Regions from separate parts of the Homo sapiens genome. Here region 2 is linked to region 1. The links come from fine-mapping of genetic effects on gene expression. A gene starts in region 1. The other region holds a variant in brackets. All regions are shown on one strand. Distances are between the middles of the regions.

Region 1 (8,347 bases):
CACCTCCTGGTAATCTGCTAGAACATCATCATCATTGTAGTAGTTATAGTAATAACTGCAATACTGCTATTGCAGAGATAGCACTTATTATGTGCCACTGTTCTCAGCGCTGTATATATGTTAACTCTAATCCTCCTCACAACTCTAAAAGATAGGGAACTATGATTCCTATTTTACAGGCTAGGAAACAGACACTAAATGTGCCTGGCAAACATAGTAAGAAGCGTTAGCTATTTTGTATGTTAGTTAGATAGGTTGGCTACTTTTGTTTTTGTTGTTGTTATCACATACTTTTTTACATAGCAATTCCACTCCTATGACTCTAACCCAAATGAGAAACTAATTTAACAGCAAAAAAATCAAGAATTTACATGTATAGCATTGTGTATCTGTTGTGGACAGGTATGAGTAAATCTATCTTTGTATGAAACAAAATAAAGAAAAACGTATACAAGATGCTTAACCTGGATTATTTTGTTGAAGCGTAGGTGATATTGGGAGAAGAGGAGGGCTGGAGAAATAGGGAAGCAATCTAAATAAGTCAATAAACCAGAACACACTCACACACACACACCACACACAAACATAGAAAGTTAGAAGGTTTAAGTACAGGGTAACAACAAAGAAATAACGTTTACATTCTCTGGGGACACAAAGAGCCCTGGAAGAGTTTCAGGAATAGGTGCTTTTATGCAAATTTCATTTCCAAGAGGAGTGATATTTTTGTTGAATGATTTGGTTCTTTTTTCCCACACAATGTAAAGTATTAACAAATTTTTCAAAGCTTTATTCTTTATTAAACAACAACAACAACAATCTTAGTAATTCTAAGGTTCAAAACTCAGTAAGGGTCAAGTGAAAGACACTGTCTAGGGGCAAGAAAGCTGAATTCTGTTCCTGGCACTGCCACCATTGGACTATCTGATCTTTGGCAAGTCACTTAATCTGCACTTAATTTCCTCACTCACAAAGGAAGGACGTTCAACCAGGCCATCTTTAAAGCTCCTTTTAGAAGTGGAATGTGATGATTCTATAATTAAAAAGCACAATGTAGAAAAGTGAAAAACTAGTAAACAGGAGTGATAATTATCATACATCTTAAAGAAATGGAGTTTAAACTCTTAATAACTTTTAATGATCCAGGTAATTTAATGATTCACTTAAAAATCAAGCTTTTAAGAAGTATAAACTACAATAAGATCAACTTGTGATTTTACATTTCCAAATGGTGAATTTAACTACCCAATGCTTTAATTTTGAGAAATTAATGCTTTAATGTTGAGAAAAGGAATGCTGCCATTTTAGATATTTTCAGATTACTCACTGAAGTAAGACTTAATTTATCCTTTAAAATGGGGCCATCTATAAGGTGCAGTTCAACCTAAATGTCATCTTCTAGAGACCACATGTAATAGCCCTATGAAAAAAAGGCTGGGCAATGCCAGCCAGTCAGCACGCCAGCCAGTCAGCCACATAAATAAATTGCACAATAAAATTTGTAACAGAAAATTTTGAATAAAATTATTAATAGAACACAAAAAAATGGAAAGAACAATTTGCTTAAGAATGGCAGCCTCCTGAAGCAACATTTACTGTTTAAATTGTTACATTTTCCTAAGTTTTATAAGTAATAATACGATTATTAATCATACTTTATTAAGATTTAAAGCATAAAAAGTCATTAACTCATAGGGCATAAAGATTTCCATGAGCTTGTTACATTTTATGTATTTTATTTCCTTAAATGGTTATGGGATTTTCCAAAAGCATACACACAATTCCTTAAACTTTGCCAACTTAGAATTAGTTACATAAAAATCACCCTTCAGACCGTATGGAATCCCCTAGACAAATCTACTCAGCCTTTCTGTGATAGGTTATCTGGGTGTGAATTCCACCACCACCTCCCCCTCGTCCCCGCCCACAAAAAATATATTAAGACTTGGCCCAACTAGATTTTACAGGCGACAGAGATGTAAAGAAACAATTTATGGCTTGCACAATTATCTAAAATTCCCGCAAACAAGCAGTTCCCTAAGTAGTATGTCATAATTTTCTTATCTATGAGTAGAAGCACGTGCATTTATTTATATCCCTAGATTAACTTCAAGTCTAATTTTACTGCCAGTAGTATCCAGGGGTGGATTTCTTTGTTCTAATTACAAATGGAACTTGAGCTAGATCAAAGGCATTTTAAGAAGGTCAAATTTTACTTCTCTGAAAAATAAAGGGTGTTATCCCATGTAATTAATTAATGCTTAGCCATGCCCTTTGGCGCATTATCCGGTGGCTGCAGAAAACCAGAGCCAGCCGTTCCCACCTGTTGGTGCAGTGAAACTTACTTACCCAAAAGAGCAGATTGAGGGCGTAGAGCAGGCAGCGCAGACACTTCACGGAATCTTCTCTGGCCATTGTGAGCCCCGTAAGGGAGAAGCCCCATCCTTTCACCACATCCTACTCCCAAGGGCAAAACGGCAGCGATCTGCAGGGGGCGGGGGAGAGAGAACACGGGACATCTCACCATCACGCTTCCCACAGCCTGCCCGTCCCTCCTCCACCCGCCCTCAGCAGGGTCCAGAGGGTCCCGAGGCCCAGTGCATTCGAGACATCGCCTCATCAAAAATCATTTGTTAAAATCATAATGGTAACTAAACTCCCAAAAGTTCCAAACCGGCTTCAGATAACACCTGCTGGGAAAAGAAAAGAGCAACTATCCGGATGAATGAAGTCGCACAGTAAACTCGCGTTCTCAGGGGACACGCGGCGGAGCCCTGTGCATTCTGATGAGACGCTCTTGAAAACCTCCCTCACTCCACGCCCCTCCTCGAGGACAGCTGTGCTCGGCACTGTCCTGAAGGTGAGAAACCACACTGCCCCCTACCCCGGACACGTCAGAGGCGCCACCGGCAAGCCCGAGAGAATGAGCGCCCTTCTAGTTAGGACAGTTCCTGGGCACTCCAACTCCGCACCCCTCTACCCCGTCCCGCAGCTCGGGTGTGAATGCAAGGGACTGGGGCGGCGGGGCGGGGGCGGGGGCGGGGGCGAGGGGGCAGCGCGGAGTTGAGATTCCGCCCGGCTACTAGGGTTTCTCTGGGAGAACGTGAGAAATGATGTTTTCGGCCCCAGAATGATGGATTAGCCTGGGACAGTGGGCGGGGGGCGGGGGGCGCCGGGGAATTAGGGCCGATGCAGCTGTGCAGACGCCGGGTTAGTCATTCAAACCCCGCTTCCCCCGCCCGGGACGCTCCCGCGACCCCTCGCTCAAAGCCGCCCGCGGAGCACAAAGCGAGCGCGGCCACCGACCCAGCCATCGCGTCCGCGCGCCCCCGGCAGGGCGCGAGGGGAAGCGCCGGCGGCAGGGAGCCCCAGAGCCAGCCCTTAAGTAGTTTAGCACACAGCGCGGAGGGCAGCCGCCGGCGGGCTGGCGGGACAGCGGGCAGGAAAGGCGACAGACGCGTGGCCACTTACCGTCGGCGCTGGGCCCGGTGCCCCACGCCCGCCTGGGGATAGTCGGGGACGCACGGCGGGGGCTCATCGGGGCAGGGAACTTCTTCGCGGAGAGCCGGAGGGCTGCATTGGCTTCAGCTGGAGACGCTTCTTTCTCTTCCTCTCCCCCCGCCGCCGCCGTCGCCGCCTCCTGGGAAAAAGAAAAAAAAAAAAAAAAGTCCTGGGCAGCAGTTGCTGGAAAGTCTCTGCTAAGCCACCTCCCAGCGCCGCTGTCCCTCCCAAGTCCTCTCCGAGTCCGGACGAGGCAGCGGCGGCAGCCAGGGCCAGCTGCACAAACTCTCAGCGCATGCTCGAGCCGCTGGCTGCCGGGGTTGGGTCCTAGTGGGTGTTTCTTGTCCCTCTCACCCAGCGAGAGTCCCCAAAGGGACGCTTCACCTCTGCAGGATAGGGTCCAGAAGATAATGCCTAGGAACTTGGGAGAAGTCCGTGCAGTAAATCCCTTTAAAATGGTGGCGTCGAAGGAATGGAGGCTGGGTTATAAGCATAGAGAAGCAGGCTTTTATTATATGATAATATTTGTGTTTGAGAAGGGGGGTGAAGGGGTGGCCCAACCCAATTCCTGCAATGAGAAACTAGTTTTCACAACCTTTATGGAGCCACCTCCTGTGATTTGTTATTAACATGGTGCCCTATGATCCTTCTTATTGCTTTGTTGCCCTCCCGGATTTTTTTTTTTTTAAGTTCTTTCCCACTTTCATAGTGCACTAATAGCATTTACGGAAACATCAGAGTAATCATGTGCAGTCTGACATGCAGAAGAGGAGGAAAGAACATTTTTAACTCTTAGAAGTAACTCAAGCTTTCCAAAATTTCTCACGATAAGATTGTTTTGAGTTAACTGGGTGATTTATTTTGAAATGTGTACATAGTAGTGGATCTTTGGAAAATCTAATTTTTTTAAACTAGAAATTCATGAAGTATTACACAGCAGGAGACCATCCTTCCAAAAGAATCTTCCCTTTTAGAAGACAGAAGTTTCACACTAAATAAAATGCCACTGGATCATATCCTCCACATAAAATGTGGATGTGTTGTGCTATGCCTCACAGTACTGCTCATTTCTAGGATTACTTTTGTGGGCACTGCATGGCAAATAAAACTTCACCAGCAAATATGAATTACCTGGAATACGAGCAACATCTTTGACCTAATAACTGGAGTCCTTGGATTTCCTTGCAGAAAAAAAAAAAAAAAAAAAAATGGAATCCTATGTCCATGACTGCCTGTCTAGAGTTAGTTGCTGCATGACTGGAGTGACAATAAGACATGCAGTCTCATATGGAAAAGTCAAGACCAAAAGACAACATGGTTGTCCTGGGTTAGGCTAGGAAAATTATTGGTAAGCAAGTCACTAAGCAGTATGTAAGACAGCAACCCAAAAGAGTATAAAGAAGTATAGCCATACACAAAAAAAACACCAAGAAACATGTCCAGTTATCCATCAGATGACTCCAACTCTGATAATGAAGCAGCTTCTAGAATACTGGGGAAGAGCAAAGAAACCCACTTTTATCCTCTGCCAGTTTCTTCTCAAATTAGGGTGCATGCCTATTTTAAGCAAAGGACTGCTGAAACAACCAGCCATCCAAATGCTGTTGGTGCCATACATTCCCCGGAGAGGTATAAACATCCCCGCATTGAAAGGAGTCCATGACTGCTATTAAAACTGAGAAAAAGAGTGCCAACAATTCCCATGTGTCAAAGCAGAGATCCTCTTCTACTCCTAGAAGGTAGTTAAGTGCCCTTTCCTTAATTCGTATACCTTTAAGGGTCAACTGCCTTAAAGTAATAAAATACTAGAGGAAGTTACTTTAGAAGTATGCATGTCCTCTTCTTCCTGGTAAACAAGAAATACAGATCCAAGATAAAGTAGTTGCTCAACGTCACATCTGTAGTCCAACCTAGATTCCAAAGTAAAATCCAGAATAATGGCTCTTAGTACTCTAGTTTAATGGTTCTCGAAATTGTTGTACACGAGAATCACTTGGAGAGCTTTGAAACAACCCTAATTCTCTGGCATGCCTGATACCACTTAAATCGGAGTCTCTGCAGGTGAGGCCTAGACACACAGGGTTTTCCAAGCTCCCAAGGTAATTCTAGTTTGCAGCAAAATTTGAAAACCCTGCAACGAGGGCTTTACAGCTGCCTAAAAACTAGCAAAAGGGTCTCTTTAGATTTCGTTGGATCAAATCCCTCTCCTGTGAGTCGATAAATTGGGATTATTATCCCCATTTTACAAGTTAAGAAGAAAACAGAGCTGTAGTTACTGCTCTAATATTCCTGATAAATGGTCATCAGAGACAGTGAATCAACATTTCAGTAGAGGAGACCTCACCACATTTGAGACATTGCAGTAATGGGCAGTTTTTATTGCTTAAACTTGACCATACCACCTTTTAACTTCTACCCTTCAACCTTAGTTCCGCCCTTGGAGTCCATGGCATGAGCAAGCCTTCCTCCCATATGACAGCCCTTCAACTACTTGAAGGCAGCTGTTCTTCCCTCCCTCTCCAATTCTTCTCTTTCCCAGAATTGTGGAAGCACAGTAAGACTTCACATCGCAGCTGTCATTCTGAGGGTTCTATATTTTTCTCTGTGAGATCTGTTTTTTTGTGTGTGTGAACAAAAGGAGGATAGAAATATCATAATATGCACATAAAAATTTGAATATGTAATAACATATTAGGAAAATTGTATGGTCTATTTACTACCCATTAGTCAGGAACCCAATTCTGTGGCCAGGTGTTCTCCAATAAGTATCATTTCAGTGGTGGTATCTACTGTGCCTCATGCTGAAGATACTAAGACAAGTTCTTACCCTCCAAGAAAAGGCAAAACTATCCTTTCTTATTATATAATAATAATAACAATAATAATGACATCAAAAAGTAATAAAATAAGCATTTACAAGGAATCACATACATGTCAGTCCCAGTGTCAGGAGTAAAACTCAGCTATATGTAAGAGAATACAAGTTCCTCACTCCGTATGGCAGCTTGTTTGTTCATATCTTATTCTATTCATTCTGCTAAAGTTGTGGAGAGAAAAAGGATAACACAGGAGTTTGGATGTATGAGTTGCTATTCCTTCTTAGTACAAGACCCTCACAAGTACTCCTAAGCCAGTACTTTACAATTAATATGGGATAGACACCTAATGTGTTTTGAACAAATTACATGTGTCTGACATAATAGGTGCTTCTCACAATTTATCTTATTAATTCCTCATAACTATATGTTGAGATACTTGAAATCAATTCAGATAGCTGATTTTTGCCAGACCCACACAGGTAGTAAATAAAGAAGCTGAGATTCTAAGATCTGTCTGATTCTTTCCACTGTTTATCTGCATTACAATAAAATTTCAAATCTGGTTGGACAAGACTTAAGAGGAAAATTTTCGAACTTTTTAAAGTTAGTTTTCGAGAATATGAAGCTGAAATTCAAATATGTGTACTTAAACTATGACTGGTAAATCTACTTTCACCTCACTTCTAAAAGAGTATACAGACCTAATAAGACCTGAGAAAATCCTTTCATTACTGAATTAAGTAGACTGCTTTCTACTGTAAGCTTAGGATTGCCAGATAAAATACAAGACACCTCATTAGATTTAAATTTCAGATAAACAACAATTTTTTATTTTTTGGTATAGGCATGTCCCAAATGTTGCATGGGACAAATATTGCACTGGACATACATATACTAAAAAATTATTCAATGTCTACCTGAAATTCAAATTGAATTGCAAACCCTACATTTGTATTAGTTGAATCTGGCCTCCCTATGCAAACTAGCAAATGCACTCAAAGAGCCACAAAAACAAATATGTTTCACATAACAATGAGTCCAGGAATAGCGATTCATCTGCCCAGTAGTGATATCAAGGAATCAGTTCTTTTTCCTCCTTACTCTCCTGACACACACAATGAGTAATCATACTATACTCAGGTACCTCCTCTTATGGTCACAAGATGGCTGTGCAAATTCAAGCATCATTTTCAGTTACCATTACTTCCAAAGGAAGAAGGTATTTTCTCCTATGAGTTTCTCTTAGGATCTAGCAAACCTCTCCCAGGAGTTCTGCAGCAGATTATCCCTTTGATTGATTGGCTAGAACCTGGTCACATACTCATATATCTACCAATTATTCACAAGAACTATGGTTCTACCATAACTGGTTTGTTTTGTTTTGTTTTGTTTTGTTTTGTTTTGTTTTGTTTGAGACAGAGTCTCACTCTGTCACCCAGGCTTGAGTGTAGTGGCTCCATCTCTGCTCACTTAACCTCTGCCTCCCGAGTTCAAGTGATTCTCATGCCTTAGCCTCTCGAGAAGCTGGGACTACAGGTATGCACCACCACGTCGTGCTAATTTTGTCTTTGTAGAGACAGAGTTTCACCATGTTGCCCAGGCTGGTCTCAAACTCCTGTCCTAAGGTGATCCACCCACCTCAGCCTCCCAAAGTGCTAGGATTACAGGTGTGAGCCACCATGACTGGCCAGGTTTTAAACCAATCAAGATGTATTACCTGTGCCTGGGACAGCCCTTCTCTAAAGCACAGGGCCAAAGAGAGGAAGGTAGATAACTGAACACAGTCAGATTTTTATTTGAACTGAGGGATAGAGAAAGGAAGGCATAGTACCATCCTCTCTCCTGTTCACTGCTAGGACAACCCAGCTCTCAGCCAACCATTTTGGGGCACTACTTAGCAAAGTTTCTTAGTTATTGAAAGAACCACTGAAGCAGGAACCTCATGGCAATAGCAAAGGACCCTGAGAAAACTCGTATCACATCATTTCCATCCCATGCCATAAGCTTACTTTCAGCATCGTCATTTGCAT
Region 2 (8,347 bases), 53 kb before region 1:
GGTAACCCATACACATTTGTCATCATGGGGTTCTTTTTCCTGTAAGCCAAGACTCGGAGAAAAACGTCACATCCCTTCAAAATCACACCCCCTGTTGTTCCCAATTTCCTCTATTTGTCAATGTTTTCTAGCATTGGGAGAAGAAATAAATAAACTTCTAAAGAGGCATAAATGGGTTTGTCAAAGTGGAAATTATTAAGAATATTTAAAACTGTAACCCAACACATGGAACACAGAAAGTCTGAGGGTCTAAAGGAAAAGTGTCCCAAAGGCACACAAGTGTGGAGGACATGTCTGTGTCCAGCCCTTACATAAATCTGTGGGAATACTACTTTTCTGAAGAAGCAGCCAATATATTTGAACAGTAGTCTTTCTTCTAACTACTAGACAAAGAAATGTGTCTCTGGAGGTATATTTTAGTTGACGTTCTGTCCCTCTTTGTTTTACATTTTGAGTCAGTCCATTTGAAGCAGGGCCTATTGTGAGCCTGTTTACTTCCATTTATTTTTCTTGAGGTAGCACACAGAGGAGTAAAATGGCATTTCAGCCTTTTTGAGGGGCTACTTATGCTAAGTTTCCTATCTGAGACAGTAAGTGCTGCAACTATTCTTTACAACTGTGTTTTCTTATTCTCTTACATATGGAACCCCAAGAAGAGTTGAGGAAAGCTATGGCTCTTATTTCCTGGAAAAAAAATGGATATAAAATATTGAAAACAATTTTTGCAGTATCATTTTTTCCTTGAAGTCCATCCAAGAAGAGCCCTGGTCCATGGGCAAGAGGTTGAGTGTCCCAGCTCTATAAAGACTTATTTTCTAACTGCTGTCTTTTATGTCTTTTATTTATGCTTCTCTTCTCCAGATCAAGTCAAGACACTGCACTTCAGTAACTGATATGATGAAAAACTCAGCAGGTGAGAGAAGACAAGAGATACCATAGGCTTGTGCTTTGCCAACTTAAACTCTGAGTCTGATATTTTGCCAAGGCCAAGTCTTACACCTCGCATTTAGAGTGTGGTTACACAGGTGATTCCAAAGAACAGGGGAGTGGGCTGTCAGTAATCACGGGCCCAGACCACCCAAGGGTGGGCCTTTATACTTGCAGTTTCCTCGGCCCAAAACACTGTTCCCCAGCATGGGTGCTTACTTTTTGTCAACTGGTCTCAGTTCACATATCACCTCCTAAGAGGGCCTATTCCTAACAATCTATCTTAAGTAACTCCCTCACCAACAAAGCTCCAGCACATTACCCTGTTCAGAGTCTTCAAAGTGCTTACCACCACCTGAAATTATTTTCTATTGCTGTTTTTTTTTCTTGTTAAACGTATGTATCCGTAACTAGAATATAAATTACATAGGAGAAGAGATTTTTGTCTGCAACACTCTCTACTATATCCCTAGCATTTAGAAGAGCAAATGGAACCCAGTAGGCAATCACAAAATATTCTGAATGAATATTGGTTATCGTATCATCATTTTGAATGAGTGAATGTGATAGATCCAAACTGAGGGTCAGAGGTATTTTCATTATAGATTTTTAAACCTATACTTTAATACAAGTTTGTAGCTTATTATGGATATTTGAAGAGCTGTGTGCCAAACCTAACAAGGCTCCTGAATGTTTCTAAATGTGCAATTGTCGCTATATTTCTGCTGTCATTTTTCACAGGTTTCCAAATGCGTCATAAAATATTATTGGGTCAGGGACCATGCAGGCTACCAGATGGTTGAGAATGATTTATTTCCTTGACTTCAGACTACTGAAGAATGATTGCAGGAAAAAAGCCAGTTTTTATCTCTGAGCTTACAGAATATGAAAGATAAGAGAGACCTTGCGGTTCATCTAGTCTGGATTCATTCTTAATTTAAAAACCCATTCTACACTACCAATGACATGGTTATCTGACCTTGACTTCAATATTTTTAGTGATGAGACACTCATTATTTTACAAGATAACCTGTCTCACAATTGGATGGATTTTGATGAGCAAGGTCTTCCTTCTATTGATTCAAAATTTCCTTCCTGTAACTTCTGGCCCTTGGAGCAACAACGTGTAAGTCTAGTTCCTGTTCTGAATTATGAACTTTGAAATATTTGAACACATCTCAACTATCTCCCTTCAGTGCTCTCAACTTCTGAATAAACATCCCAAATACCTCCAGCTGTTCCTCACTTATTTCTCCTTTTGGAACCCTCATCTTCCTACTGAATGATCTCTGGACACACCGTAATTAGGAAACATATGTTCTCCAGGGCAAAGTAGAATTATGTCTTATTTTTAATTATGGATTTAATTGTACTTATGCCATAAAACTACTAAATGATCCTCTTTTGTAAATCAACTATACATATAATTGCATACTGTATAATTACCAATATCAGCATATGTTATTAGTTGTAAAATGCAAAAGCAGGTTACTCTGATATAATAAGCCCCCATCTTAGCTGGAAGTCTGTGTCTAAAGAACATCTCATGGCTGACAATGCCAGCTTGCTATTAAAATTCTTCAGATAAAAATATGAACAAATTTCAAAATAATCTGGGCTATCAACTTGCACATGCACAATAGTATGGCTTGTTTCAATTTCAAAATTCATGGAGCAAGCAATTATAGATATCCTAAAAGTAAAGCATCCCTTTATAAAGTAGTATTATTAGTGAAAACAATCTAAGAAAAGCAGTGAGGATGAATTGCAGTTTTACAACAATAAAATTATATTAAATGTTTAATGTGGAACAGTCTTCAGCTAAATAAAGCAAAACTGAAGAGAATTAGTCCATATTCAGACTTTATGGGAAGATCCGGTAAGTTGATCTCATGATCAATAGTAGTTATAATCATATCATCAGTATTAATCACTAAAGCAGATACAAATTATACCATAATGTTGTGGCCCAATAATTGTCCATATTGACTCGCTACCAGTAAAAACTAACAAATGGACAATTCACACTAGGAAATTTGGTAGGTTTCAATTTACACATCTATACTTCTAACTATACTGTAGCCATCTGTTCTTTTAATGTCTAATAGTAAGTTATAGTATATTTGAATATCCATAATATGTTTATATGTAATACTACCTCAGAAATATTAGTACTGTTTTCCGTTTTATGGAATAAGCAGGAGTTTGCCGCATTTATTAGTTGATGATTCCTACTACAGACACTAGCCAATATTCAGCTTTCACCCAAAACAAAAGAACTAGGTTCAGTGCCATAATCACTGAAGAACCTACAGACACTAACCTACAACAACTTTCTGTTCAATAAACTATATTTTGTATATTCCTTTTCATTCAAAGCCAAATGTTTCTAAACAAAGTATGTATAAAACAATAACATCCAAACATAATGCTTCTCAGCAGTGTGAGCATGACAAAAAGTATTCTGATCATCTTTTAAAATAAAAAGCCTGAATTATTCAACTGTTTGAATAATTCTTGTGATTGGTTGGATTATGTCCTCCCAAAATTCGTATGTTAAAGAGCTTAGTACCTCAGAATGTGATCTTATTGGAACATAGGATTGTTGCAGATGTAACTAAGATGAGGTCCGACTGGAGGACAGTGGGCCCCTTGTCCAATATGACTGTTGTTCTTATAAAATGGGAAAATTTGGAGACACACAGACAAGGAAAACACCATGTGAAGATGAAACAGATCAGGGTGATTTTTCTAAAAGACGAGGAACCAGGAAAATTGTCAGCACACCACCAGAAGCTAGGGGAGAAGCATGAAATAGATTTCTCCTCATGGCCCTCAGAAGGAATCAACCCTGCTGACACCTTAATCTTGGAGTTAGCCTCCAGAACACTGTGACAATAAATTTACGTTGTCAGAGCCACTCAGTTTGTGGGACTTTGTTATGGCA[G/C]CTCTAGGAAATTATAACAATTTTTAAACTCCTAAAAAATACTTGGCACTCTCCTTTGGGGCATGCCTTCAGAGCCCAAAGCACTTTATTTTGGATATCCTTAAATGGTGACATATTCTTGTCTTCTGAGATATGAGTAACAGCCCAGAGTTACTCATATCTATGAATATAATGGATCACTTGTATAGGTAGTACAGCATTCTTTTAATTAATTACAACATCCAAATTAATTAATTTACAATATAAATTGACTGCCCATCTCAACAACTGCCTTTGGCAGAGAGTCTAAAAGATGTTTTGAATGGTAGTATTCTTAGGAATAAAAAGCATAACCTCCTAAGATAACCACCTTGAAATATATCAAAATGCAGGTGTTATAAATCCTGTTGCTTTGTTTTAAATTTTCATTCTTTATAGCCCTACTATATATACATGAGTTATATTATGAATAGTGTGAGCAGTGCCTTGTGATACCAGGTACTTGACAAGAGGTGTATGTGGGGAATGATCCCAACCCCTTAGCCTAAGCAGTTTCCTTTCTATCTGATTCACATTTTACATTTCCATTCTAGATAAAGACTGCCTAACAAAACTTTATGTGATGATAGAAATGTCTTACATCTGCATTGTCCAGGACAGGGGCCACTAGTCACAAGTGGCAGTTGAGCACTTGAGATGTAGCTAGTGCAACAGAGGAACAGATATTTTAATTTTAATTAATTTTAATTCAAATGGCCACACGTAGCTATTTGGCTGCTGTAGAGGACAGTGCAGTCTTAGATTTTAATCTGAAAATAGAATTTTACTGCTAACAAAGTCTGAAAATAATCAGTAAAAATGAATGAATAGGAAAACTTCTGCTAAAATGGAGTAATTGATTATTCTGATCAATTCTCCCAGAAAACACAAGTATGTAAATTTCCTGGCCACATGAGGATTGACTTTACCGCCACTGAGCATAAAACTTAATCAGTGAACTAAAACTGACATCACTAATCATTAGCCAGCAGGGGGAGCTGGAGAGTAGCATGGTAGCATTTTCTTTGGAGAGGTTCTTTTTTTTCCCCTTCTATGTGTTGGTGGTCTATGTGGAGGCTCTTAAAATACGTATTCTGTCCAGGAACTCCAAACCCTCTGCTTCTTGCACATCCAGTGTTAGCTACATACTCTGCCTGTGTCTGTTTCAAAGGATCCCCAAGCAGTAGGAACTTGATTCAAAACAAAACAGTTCAAAATCCAATTAATTACAAAACCTGGTCTTTCCCACTTCCCTTTATTAAAATGTGATTAATGTTTAGATTTTTATATTGTTTTTTAGCTTTCTTCTGCTTCTCCCCATATTAGAGAAAAATTTTAAGGCCTTTTACATTTAGACAGAGAAGGAAAATTTCATTGGCATATTGTTGATTCTTTAAAGTTATTCCTAAGAAAACATTTATCCATAATAAATTAACCATATATGGCCTCACCTCTTGATAAAGGTCACTGAGATCTTCCTGGTGGGCCTGTTTGGAACATCCTGGGAATTCTCTAACACAGCAGGAATCTGGGGGCCAGTCCATCTCTGTCATTTCCAACCAGTCAGTGAAATATACTACTCCACAGCACTTAAACTGCAAAAAAAATCACTAGTCAGCCTCAGAAACCACAAAAATATTTTCTTAACTTATAGGAGATTAAACATCAGTTTTTTAAAATTTTTGTACCCAGAGCTATATCTGTCATCACCTAATGATATATGTACAGTCTATGTTGATGATAGAAATGTAGTAAAGGAACACCATGGCTAACGATTGCATAATGGAAGTATTCTGAGTAATAATGCCCATAACACATAAAAACAAATCAGGCATGACTGAGACTCACTCCCTAACTGTAAGCTCATCTACAAGTGACTATACATAGCAACAGATTGAACATACACACTAACAAACCCAAGTAGGTGACACTTTAATCATTAAACCTCTAACCACCAAAGGCCAGTTAATCAAATTTTTCTATTGCCCAACATATTCAAATATTATATTAAAAGTTTCTGTAATCTTTGTAAAAACATGTGTTGACCAAAGCCCACATCACAAAAAGTTAGCAGACATCGATTCCTTAGCTAGTAAAATATCCAAAAACTTTAAGAAATAAACATAGGTCTGGCCAACTGGTGTTTATTCAACTGAGTAAGATTCTTGAAATAAATGTTCATATTCTATTACCATAATCTCAGAAGAAATGGTGTGTGTGCCTTTAGCTTGAATAAAATTGGATTTAAGAAAAACTATACTGACATTTTTACTTTTTTATCTTATTTCTCCAAAGATTAGCAAAAACTGTCTCTGATCAAGGTTTGGAAACACTGCTTAAGGACCTCTATAGATTAGATTCAGAACAATTAACTATGATGAATAATTTTCTGTCCTTGAGTGGAGAAGGAGGTTGCTCTTTCCCCTCTAGCCAGAAACAAGGACTATGGGCAGTCACTGAGAACTTTGCCAAGAGTGACTGGCTATGCAAATTATGCAGTCCAACAGATCAATCTATGTCCAGGTTTGACATTGCATCATAAAATATCACAATCCCCCACCATTTCAAAATTTAACTAAAATTAACTTTGAAGAATTCCGAACTTCTCATGCAAAAGGAAACAATGAAAATACCACAAAGTATTTTGCGTTGTTACACTGGCCTAAATGTCTGATTTTTAAACAGAAAAAAAAATCATCTTAAGAGTATTATAAATGACGAATTACTGAAAGCTATGGGTAATACTGAAATTTTGAGAAACTTAAAAAATACTTTATATATATTTTTCCTTTTTAAACTTGCTCTCAAAGTCATGAGTATACTATAAACATCACAAATTTAGTCAATAATTTGATGTCACATATTTTACATAAGACATTAAATATCCTTAAATAATATATGTAGTATAAAGACTTCACTTCATAAAAATCATAAACAAGGAAAGGTTAACTTTCCAAGTCCATCTTTTTAAATTCTTGCACTCAAAGAAAATCCATTTGTCTCCTTTGCTAATGACATGAGTCCTTTCTGTGTTGATGACAGAACAGTTCTTGGAACTCTCTAGCTCCATCCAGCAAGGAACAGCCTATTTATATGGCTTTGTCAGGAAATAAGATATTCTACATAAATGACTTTCTCAAATATAAGTATATAATGTTCTTTCTCATTATAAGTATACGATGCTCAGTGCTGAACTTACTTTTATTTTAGAAAGCATTTGTATATAATTGTCCTTCTTCAACAGAAGATAATGAATTTATTCTGAAACTTTTTCTGAAAACTCCTTTAAGTAAGCCCAACATCATACCAACATATTACTGTGGTCTACATCTCCTTGTCATTTTCCTGTCTACTTTAATATCATATTGTGAGATAGTACTACTCTTGCTAATGTGTCAAGCTCTAGAAAATACCATCCATTTTACATATGAGTAAACTGAGGCCTTTGACAGTCAAGTAGCTTGCTAAAGTTACAGGCCAGAGTGTGGCACAGTCTATTCCAAAGCCTATGCTCCAACTACTATGTTAAAATAAATAAATAAACACATTTTTTAAAGTTAGTATTCTAAAAACGTATTAAACAAACGTCACTGGGGCTTAAGTGAGAGTCCGCTAAGTTGCGGTATGTGCATAGAATTGCACTGAATGAGGAGCAAAGGAGACTGGCACCTGATAAAGTTGCTTTCTGCAATACAGGTTATTCTAGAATTGGGTCCCCCACCCAAATGCATATGTTGAAATTCTACCTCCCAGTACCTTAGAATGTGACTGTATTTGGAGATAGAGTTTATAGAGATTGTTGAGTTAAAATAAGGTCATTAGGGTGGGCCCTAATCCAGTATGACTGATGTACTTATTAGGAGAGGGTATTTAAATATATATATATATTTAATATATATATGGAAGACATAGTGAAGACACAGGGAGAAGATGGCCATCCGCAAGCAGTCATTGCAAACTAATATAAGGGATATAAGGGATTTTAAAAACCTCAGGTTCTCAGAAGTCTTCACCATCTCCATTTACATAAAATAGTCTTATGATAATGGAGGAGGAAACTTACCATGTAACAAATCTAAAAATAAGTGTGCTATCATTTGCAGTACTTGTACATTGTCCATCTAGGTGCAGCTTCCATCAGAAAAAAACTCACTTTGTTTTTTAACCTGGATTATCACTGTCTACATCACAAATTCCAGAAAATAACGAGCTCTGGGCAGCATCTACTCAGGACAGTAGCTGACATAACTTACTATAAATTTCCTAATGCTTATTTTCTCTTTGTGTTGTTTTTAGCACAAATATACAATAAATAAACAAAGTTAGGAAGCACTTAAATAAACAGGAAATCTGTGTTACAATGATAATTTTTACCATCTCAACAGTTGTACACAGCCAGATTTGGAGATTGTCCTGGACTTGAACCTCTGCCCATATCCAGGACAAAGTAAGTGA

Which allele goes with the higher level. Alleles are on the strand shown, and positions count from the first base shown. SD is a standard deviation of normalised expression in the study named.
As copies of C replace G in region 2, the expression in tibial artery of the gene that starts at base 3,793 in region 1 goes down (moderate effect, 0.72 SD a copy in GTEx).

Evidence for each region. PIP is the estimated chance that this variant, and not a neighbour inherited with it, causes the effect.
Region 2: its variant is fine-mapped to the expression of TSPAN12 in tibial artery (GTEx, PIP above 0.99).

Annotation. Positions count from the first base shown.
Region 1 is chr7:120,854,352-120,862,698 of GRCh38, forward strand. It overlaps TSPAN12 (tetraspanin 12), which reads right to left and starts at 3,793. Exons shown (of 8, transcript NM_012338.4): 1 at 3,469-3,793; 2 at 2,347-2,482. The coding sequence starts at 2,412. LOC124901733 (a long non-coding RNA gene) reads left to right here and starts at 2,484. Exons shown (of 2, transcript XR_007060491.1): 1 at 2,484-2,857. RefSeq lists silencers at 2,736-2,955, 3,148-3,447.
Region 2 is chr7:120,801,206-120,809,552 of GRCh38, forward strand. TSPAN12 (tetraspanin 12) reads right to left here. Exons shown (of 8, transcript NM_012338.4): 7 at 5,344-5,487. Among named protein-coding and RNA genes, the nearest start is that of TSPAN12, 53 kb to the right of the region's middle. RefSeq lists a silencer at 4,849-4,898. The variant G/C (reference allele first, on the strand shown) is at 3,875.